Homo sapiens: one gene and its partner. The protein of the gene in region 1 interacts with the protein of each later gene in a pairwise test. Each region holds a gene or a part of one and is shown in the gene's direction. Other genes may lie near its edges.

Region 1 (3,500 bases):
GCCGCATGAGAGGCTTGCTGTGTTCTGGGGCAAGCTGCTGTTTCTGCCACACAGGATGACAGCAGCTGCATTGCCCATCATTGAGCTTAAATGCCAGCATTTGGTTGGATGCCTAGGAGCAGAAGAGAGGGCAGTGATCAGAATGAGCAAGGTTATAATTAGCCCTGCTGCCAAGCTACACGGTGACACGAAGTCTGCCCTACTCCGGGTTGCGGGAGGGGGCTTTCACGCTCCTCTCTGCTCCTATTGGTAGAAGCCAAAGGTGCATCTCCCTGTCCTGACTCCATCCTCAGGGAACTGGGGCTGCTCCAAGCTTCCAGAGCGCTAGGGACAGCTGCCGTGAGTGTGTGCCTGCGTAATCTGCCATGAGTGTGTGCCTGTGTGTGAATGGGTGTTACGTGGGGAGGGGGGAGGGCGGTGCGTTCATGTGTGTGTGTGTGTGTGTGTGTGTGCCTGTGTGCATGTGTGTATGAGAAACGTGCTCCTGCCAGGAGCTAGACTCTTCATTTCCCATCCTACCAAGGACACAGCTCATCACAGCAACCCCTCCGCCTACCCCAGCCCACTCGGGTGTTCCTCGAGCACTAGCCCAGATCTGCCTTCTTTCGTTCTCTGGGTATAAGAAGGAGCAGAAATTTCTTCTCTGTTTCATGGCGAGTCTTCATCTTCACCATTATTCTTAACAGATCATTTTGGGGCCCCGACTCTGCCATGTACTGGGCCAACCACTGAAGGGCTTGCCTGGCTCAGCCAGAGCCTGGGCCAGAGCAGGACTAGGAACTGAGCCCACAGGCCTTGGGGAAATCACTGCACTTTTTGGAGGCTTGGTTTCCTCATTGGTTCTCAGTTTCCTCACGGGCATTCTAAAATTTTACCTGGAATCTAATTTACAGAGGTATGGCTGAGTGATAACACAGGGAAGCCAGTGCCATTGGGAAGAGTTTAACGTGATACACAATGTCCCTAGAAACCAGATGCTCAGCCCGCCATGTGGGGTGCAGGGGGAAGCAGCAGGCTTGGGTCAAGAGTCAGAATCAGGGGTGAGGGAAAGCCCAGGCTACAGCCCTGTTGGGGCTCCCACAGGAAGTGCAAGGCAGGGCAGATTAAGCAACCTAGGGTTGGCTAGTCTCAACATCCTGGCAGGCTTTGGGCTACAGGGGTGATCTCTAGTTGTCTCTCTGGTACCTGAGATAATTTGGGACAGGGGAAATATTGTCTTGGTGTGTGTGTGAATTAGAGAAACGGGGTGGCTGGCTTGCATTTGAGAGGCATCCTTCCAAGTCAGTCATTTTCTGTCTTCAGGAATTAACTAGCTCTGGGACAGTAAGTCTCTCTCTGGGTCTGTGAGGCTCCCAAGTGCCAGAATATCAGGATCAGAGAAGATAGAAAAATATAGTCAATATAGGTGTCTCTGTGATGAATGGGTGCCAAATACACAAATACAGAATCTAAGAAAACACATGGGGTTAACAAAGGTTGCAGAGATTAAGGTTTAAAGTTGAGGCCCTCCGTATAAGTTGGCTGTCTTTCTTCTAGCACAGTAATTGGCAATAAGTGGTCTTATGTATCTGGGAGAAGATAAGCGAGGGGCAAGGGCCTCAGACACCCATGGGCATCACTCCCCACACCCCAGCTGGATGCCCACAAGACTTGCAGCTGCCTCCTGAGTCTGTGGCCTCATCGGCTCCAGGAGTACCAGGCTACAGGACCTAAGCTAATCTCCCACTCCTGCTGTCCATCCATTATGTTGCTTTGTCCCCAGGTGGTAGGTGAGTGGAAATTCAGCAGGATTCACTGTGACATCTTCGTCACTCTGGACGTCATGATGTGCACGGCGAGCATCCTGAACTTGTGTGCCATCAGCATCGACAGGTGAGCCCAGCCAGGGTGGAAGAGGTTGCTCTGGCCACTCACCATTCTGGCTGCCCCAGCTTTTCTCAAAGCCAGGCTGTGTCTCGTGTCTGTGATGCTGTGCAGCTGGCTGTGTGCATGGGGGTCCATGTGTTTGTGTGTATGGGTGTGCATGTGTGTATGTTTGGCTAGGAGAGCACACACTCCCTAAAGAGAAGCCATCTATGGACAGTGATGCTGCCAAGCATACTCAGACAGTGACTGGTACAAAAGGGGAAAGATTGTGATTCTGACGGAAGCCCTAGCTCTAGCACATCTTACTCATGTGACCTTGGGCAGATGATGGACGTTTTCAGAGCTCTCAGTTTCATTTTCTAGAAACCTACATTGATGACACCTGTGGCCTGGAGCTGCAGTATCTGGTTATGCATTTTATGTCCTTGGCACATGGCCAAGGGTCCCAGGCCATGCACACCTTGCTAAGCTGCATCCTTGGAGCCTTCCACTAATTTGCACAGATATGACCCTACCTCCCTCACACCATTCTTGGAAGATGAAATAAGTTAATGAATGAGAAGGGCTGGGTAAAAAAAAAAATGTGATGAAGGATTGTAGACAATTGCCATTGTTATTTCCTGCTAACTAAGGCTTAAATCTTGCTCTGAGGGGCCTGGCTAACAATTTATCAACAAACATTTCCACCTTATGGGCTCAACACAAGTGCAGTGGGTACAGTTTCAAAAGTGCAAAGATGCAGGCCATGGTTCTTCGAAAAGCCTGAAATCCAGGTGGGGCCGGTTAGAATAATAGATATGAGCTAAGAGTAAACAATAGCTCACCAGTGATTAAGTGTTTGGGCTTTGCCAACTGTCCTCGCCATCTGAGTTTGGGGACAGGAGGGAGGGTTGAGTTAGCATCTCAGGCAAGCTTCATAGAGGTGTGTCAACTGTTTAGCCCCAAGGAGTGAGGGTGTCTCTGGTGTGTGCATATTGTGGAGTGAGGGGTCCCTGGGCCTGCACCCCAGATTCAGGGTCCCCCGCCCTTGCAGGTACACAGCTGTGGCCATGCCCATGCTGTACAATACGCGCTACAGCTCCAAGCGCCGGGTCACCGTCATGATCTCCATCGTCTGGGTCCTGTCCTTCACCATCTCCTGCCCACTCCTCTTCGGACTCAATAACGCAGGTACATTCTGCTTTTGTTTGCCTGAGGCTCAGCTGGCCCTGGGCCCCTGCTCCCTCGAAGGGCCCTGAGGGAGCAGAGTCCCTGGCACAGATATGGGTGGAGGCCCAATGGAGGCCTATCACTACCCTGGACTGAGTCCAGGCTACGTGTCCTGGGCCAAGCCCCACTCAAGAGTTGTTCTAGGTTGGCAGAGAGGAAACAGTGGCCCAGGACACAACGGAGTTGGATGAGGAGTGGGGATAATGGTTCAGGGGTATGTCTGGGAATTTTCAACTTTGGTTATTAAGTTGAAGAGGCAAGACGTGCTTCACAAACTGCATGTGTGTATATGTGCACATGAACATGGGATGGCGGAGGCTACTGGGCTTCCATCCACTCCTGACAATAGTATTTTTGTAATGAAGCTGCAGCCCTCAGGGCCTGCTAAACCCAGGTCAGGCCTTAGCCACCTGGAGCAGGAAAGC
Region 2 (3,500 bases), on another chromosome or scaffold:
TGATGCACTGTAAACAGATTTTGTTTCTTTTTTAGATGGAAATATAAGACAGATATTGATGTTTTAATAACTGTTTTTCTGAAAAACATCACCAATCATGCCATCTGGACAGATATTCTGTTATTTATTTTTATACATTGATGGTAATTAAAATTATCCCAGGAACATTTCCAAAAATATGTCTCAGCAGTGTCCTGGAATGAATATAAGTTTAAACATTATTAAAACTGCACCATAAAACTCCATCAATCCTCTATTTTCAGGTGTTCTCATTGCTTCTGTCCCTTTTGTGGCGTGGAAATAGTCTCATCAAAATAACACTGTCTTCTAAAGTTACAACTTCATGTCTAAACTGATAATGGACATGTGAAATTATGTGTGTTGACAAGGGAACATTTAATACACCGTAGGTAGGCTACGACATGTTAGCGTTGTTAATCATAAAAGTGCCATCATCTAATAACTTTATACAAAGAATGTTAAGAGCAACTGTTCTGTTTTTTCATGATCAGTTATTTTATTACTGGAAACTATTCAAAAGGAGCATACAATAACAAAAGGAAAAAAGAATGGTCCTTTGTTTAAAGAAAGAATTTTAAATAGAACATCTGAACAAAATGAAATAGAGGTTAACTCATTGCCTGCTTTGGAAATTAACTCATTGACTGCTTAATATATGGAAAGCAAAATCAAGAACATGATGGAGAATGGTCAGGAAAAATCAGTCCAATATGATTTGCTGCAGTGATATCAATTTATAAATAATTTGACTTAAATTTCAAGATAATTACAAAAAGCATTTTCCAATTTACTTTACATGGACCATATTGTTTATATGTCCTCATTTTTCAAATGCTAAATGTGATGCTGTATTGGAAAAACATCTTCTAAATTCCATTTGGAGGCTAGATTAACTGTCTTCACTTTTGGATGTGTTTGACAGATGTGTAGACATTTTTTATTTGGAGTCATTTCCAGGTAATCCCCTTCAGAAGGTATAAATTTCCATCTTCTTTCTTTTGAGAAAGCTACAGTTCTATTGAAATGGTAAGGAACATTACACTGTGCCATTACTATCTTTAAAGAAACATATAAGATGAATAAAAGAGTTTGGAAAACTAATGCAATTTATTTCTGTGGGCATATCCTCTGGATACAATCAATACCATTTCTGGAAGTAAGTACAATATATGTTCTTTAATATAGGGAATTCAAATTAGGTTAAATTAAATTTAGGATGCTTACATACTTTTAAAATACATTGATAAATATTATAAAGGCTTTCAGGTTAACTTTCCCTTCATGAACTTACTGTTCCAAGAAAACCACCCTGCTCATTGCCCTGCTCATAGGCTCTCCTCTCTCCATCTCTTTTTTACTTCTGATTCTGAGGGTTGAGAGAAGCATTATTGGTTATCTTGCCCATTTTATTGTCTATCCCTGGGAGCATGGATTGCAAGGATTACAGAAAGCTTTTATTATCTTTTGTAAAGTGAGAAACCATTGCGGTTCAATTCAACTTAGTAGACTTATGTTAAATGCCTCCTTTGTGTAAGGATCTGTGCTAAACACAGGTCAGTCATGACTTCCTAAAACATGTGCACCTTTCTGATTCACAGTATTTAATTTAGCCAAATAGTTCCTTTTGTGTTATTTTTCATTTTCTTCATTCCCAAGTTATTGCTGGAAGCTTGACTAGAAGGGAATTATAATAATCTAACCCCATGGGCACAAGGGTATGAGTTAGTTTTCTGAGATCAACACAGGATAAGTAAATATGAGCACAGCTTGCTCAGACTGTGAAAGACAAAATCTGTCTTTTTGTCTAGCTGTGAAAAACAAAATCTTTCTCTCCCTTTATTTCTATCATCTATCTCATTCTCTACATCTTCAAAGAAATAACTGGCTAAATGTTACATCAAGATCTTTGGATTAGTTAGTTGTGATTTTATTCAACAATTAGATTATTTCAGTGGTGACTAAGGGAGTTTTGAAAACGATGCTGGAAAATTTAGAGGGCAGTGAAAATAAAAGACATTTCAAGAGACAAACGTATCTACATAGGAATGCTCTAGGCTAAAGTCATTGTAAAGAACATGGTCCAAAAATGAAAGACAACCAGTTTTGTTTGGTTAAATAATATTTGAGGGCAAAGAGAACAGTGAGAAGAGTGTGAGCCAGAGAGGCCCACTGTTTGTGGAAGATGCTGTAGTGATAGGGTATGAGAAAAGGGAGGGAAGGGCTTCTCAATTCTTATTTGAGCTCCCTAATTTAAAATGGACAGTGATTCTTAAGTTGGAAAATTGAAACATACAGAAAGAGATACTGGGATCCCAGGATAAGTAAACAGAAGGTAAAATCTTGTATTACTACTTTGATGAGATCAGTTCTTCACATCCAACTACTTTACATCTCATGGAATTGAATGAGTGTGCTGAGCAGCTTTAAATTCATTCCCAGTATCTTTGGAGAATAAGACTAGGGCTAGAAAAGCTGAAATTGATAAGTGATTTTCAAAAAGGGGAAAATGGTGGATTCTTAAAACTTATAAACCAATATATTTGACACTGACTGCTGGTAGAATCTAAGAATGTGTTATTATGCTAAATATTCATAGACCCTTAGAAAAGAATGAATATATTGTTCAGAAATTCCCTCTAGTTCACTAAAAAATAATGCCTGTACAACATTATTTCCCTCTTTTTCAGATTTTGAATTACCAACATGTATGTAGCCCTTCCTATGTCTAGGAACTCTGCAAAACGCTCAACTGACATAAAGATATAGAAAGCATGCTCTTTAATTTATAAACTGCACAAAATTTCAAAGGATGGCTGATATGCTACAGGGTAGCATTGCGATGAAAAAAATCTTGATTTTAATGTTTATTCAAAAGCAACAAGATAAATCTGTTTATTAAAATTATTTTTGTCCCGATTTAAAAATTGGGGGTGGGTAGAAAATACATACACATGGTATTAAAATCTAAAAGGTACAAAAGGGTAAGTAGAGAAAAGGAAGTCTTCACACCTTACCTTTCAACAATCCATTGCCCCTCTCCAGAGGTAACCATTGTAATTAGTTTTAGCAAGAGAGCATTACTTATGATTATACTACTATTTATTGAACTCTTGCTATATGTCAGGCTTTGTCTAAGCACTGAGGATTATAGTACAGAAAAGGACAGATAAAAGCCTCTCATCCATAAACTATACTTTTTTTTTCTTGGTGGGGGCAAGGGGAGAGAGTAAGGAAGGGCAACAGAGACCAGAACATCTATATCAAGGGATGATTAAGTATTGTGAAAAAGGTCAAAACAGAGTAATGGGAATGAGAGGGATAGTCAAAGAAGACCTCTTTGATAAGGTATCTTTAAAGCACAGACTTGAAGGAAGTGACACAACAGTCTTGCAGATGTCTGAGAGAAGAACATTTTGGGCAGAGGGAATTTCCTTTGCAAAGGCCCTGGGTGGGAGTGTGCCTAGCACATTGAAGGAACC

Evidence for each region.
Region 2: the proteins of DRD2 (region 1) and RTN1 interact in a two-hybrid assay, tested with the Homo sapiens proteins (one large-scale study listed by BioGRID and IntAct).

The regions. Positions count from the first base shown.
Region 1 is NC_000011.10:113,416,399-113,419,898, reverse strand, and holds part of DRD2 (D(2) dopamine receptor), read left to right. Parts: intron 1-1,762; coding exon 1,763-1,872; intron 1,873-2,899; coding exon 2,900-3,036; intron 3,037-3,500. UniProt on the Homo sapiens protein: Dopamine receptor whose activity is mediated by G proteins which inhibit adenylyl cyclase. Positively regulates postnatal regression of retinal hyaloid vessels via suppression of VEGFR2/KDR activity, downstream of OPN5.
Region 2 is NC_000014.9:59,864,277-59,867,776, reverse strand, and holds part of RTN1 (reticulon-1), read left to right. Parts: intron 1-3,500. UniProt on the Homo sapiens protein: Inhibits amyloid precursor protein processing, probably by blocking BACE1 activity.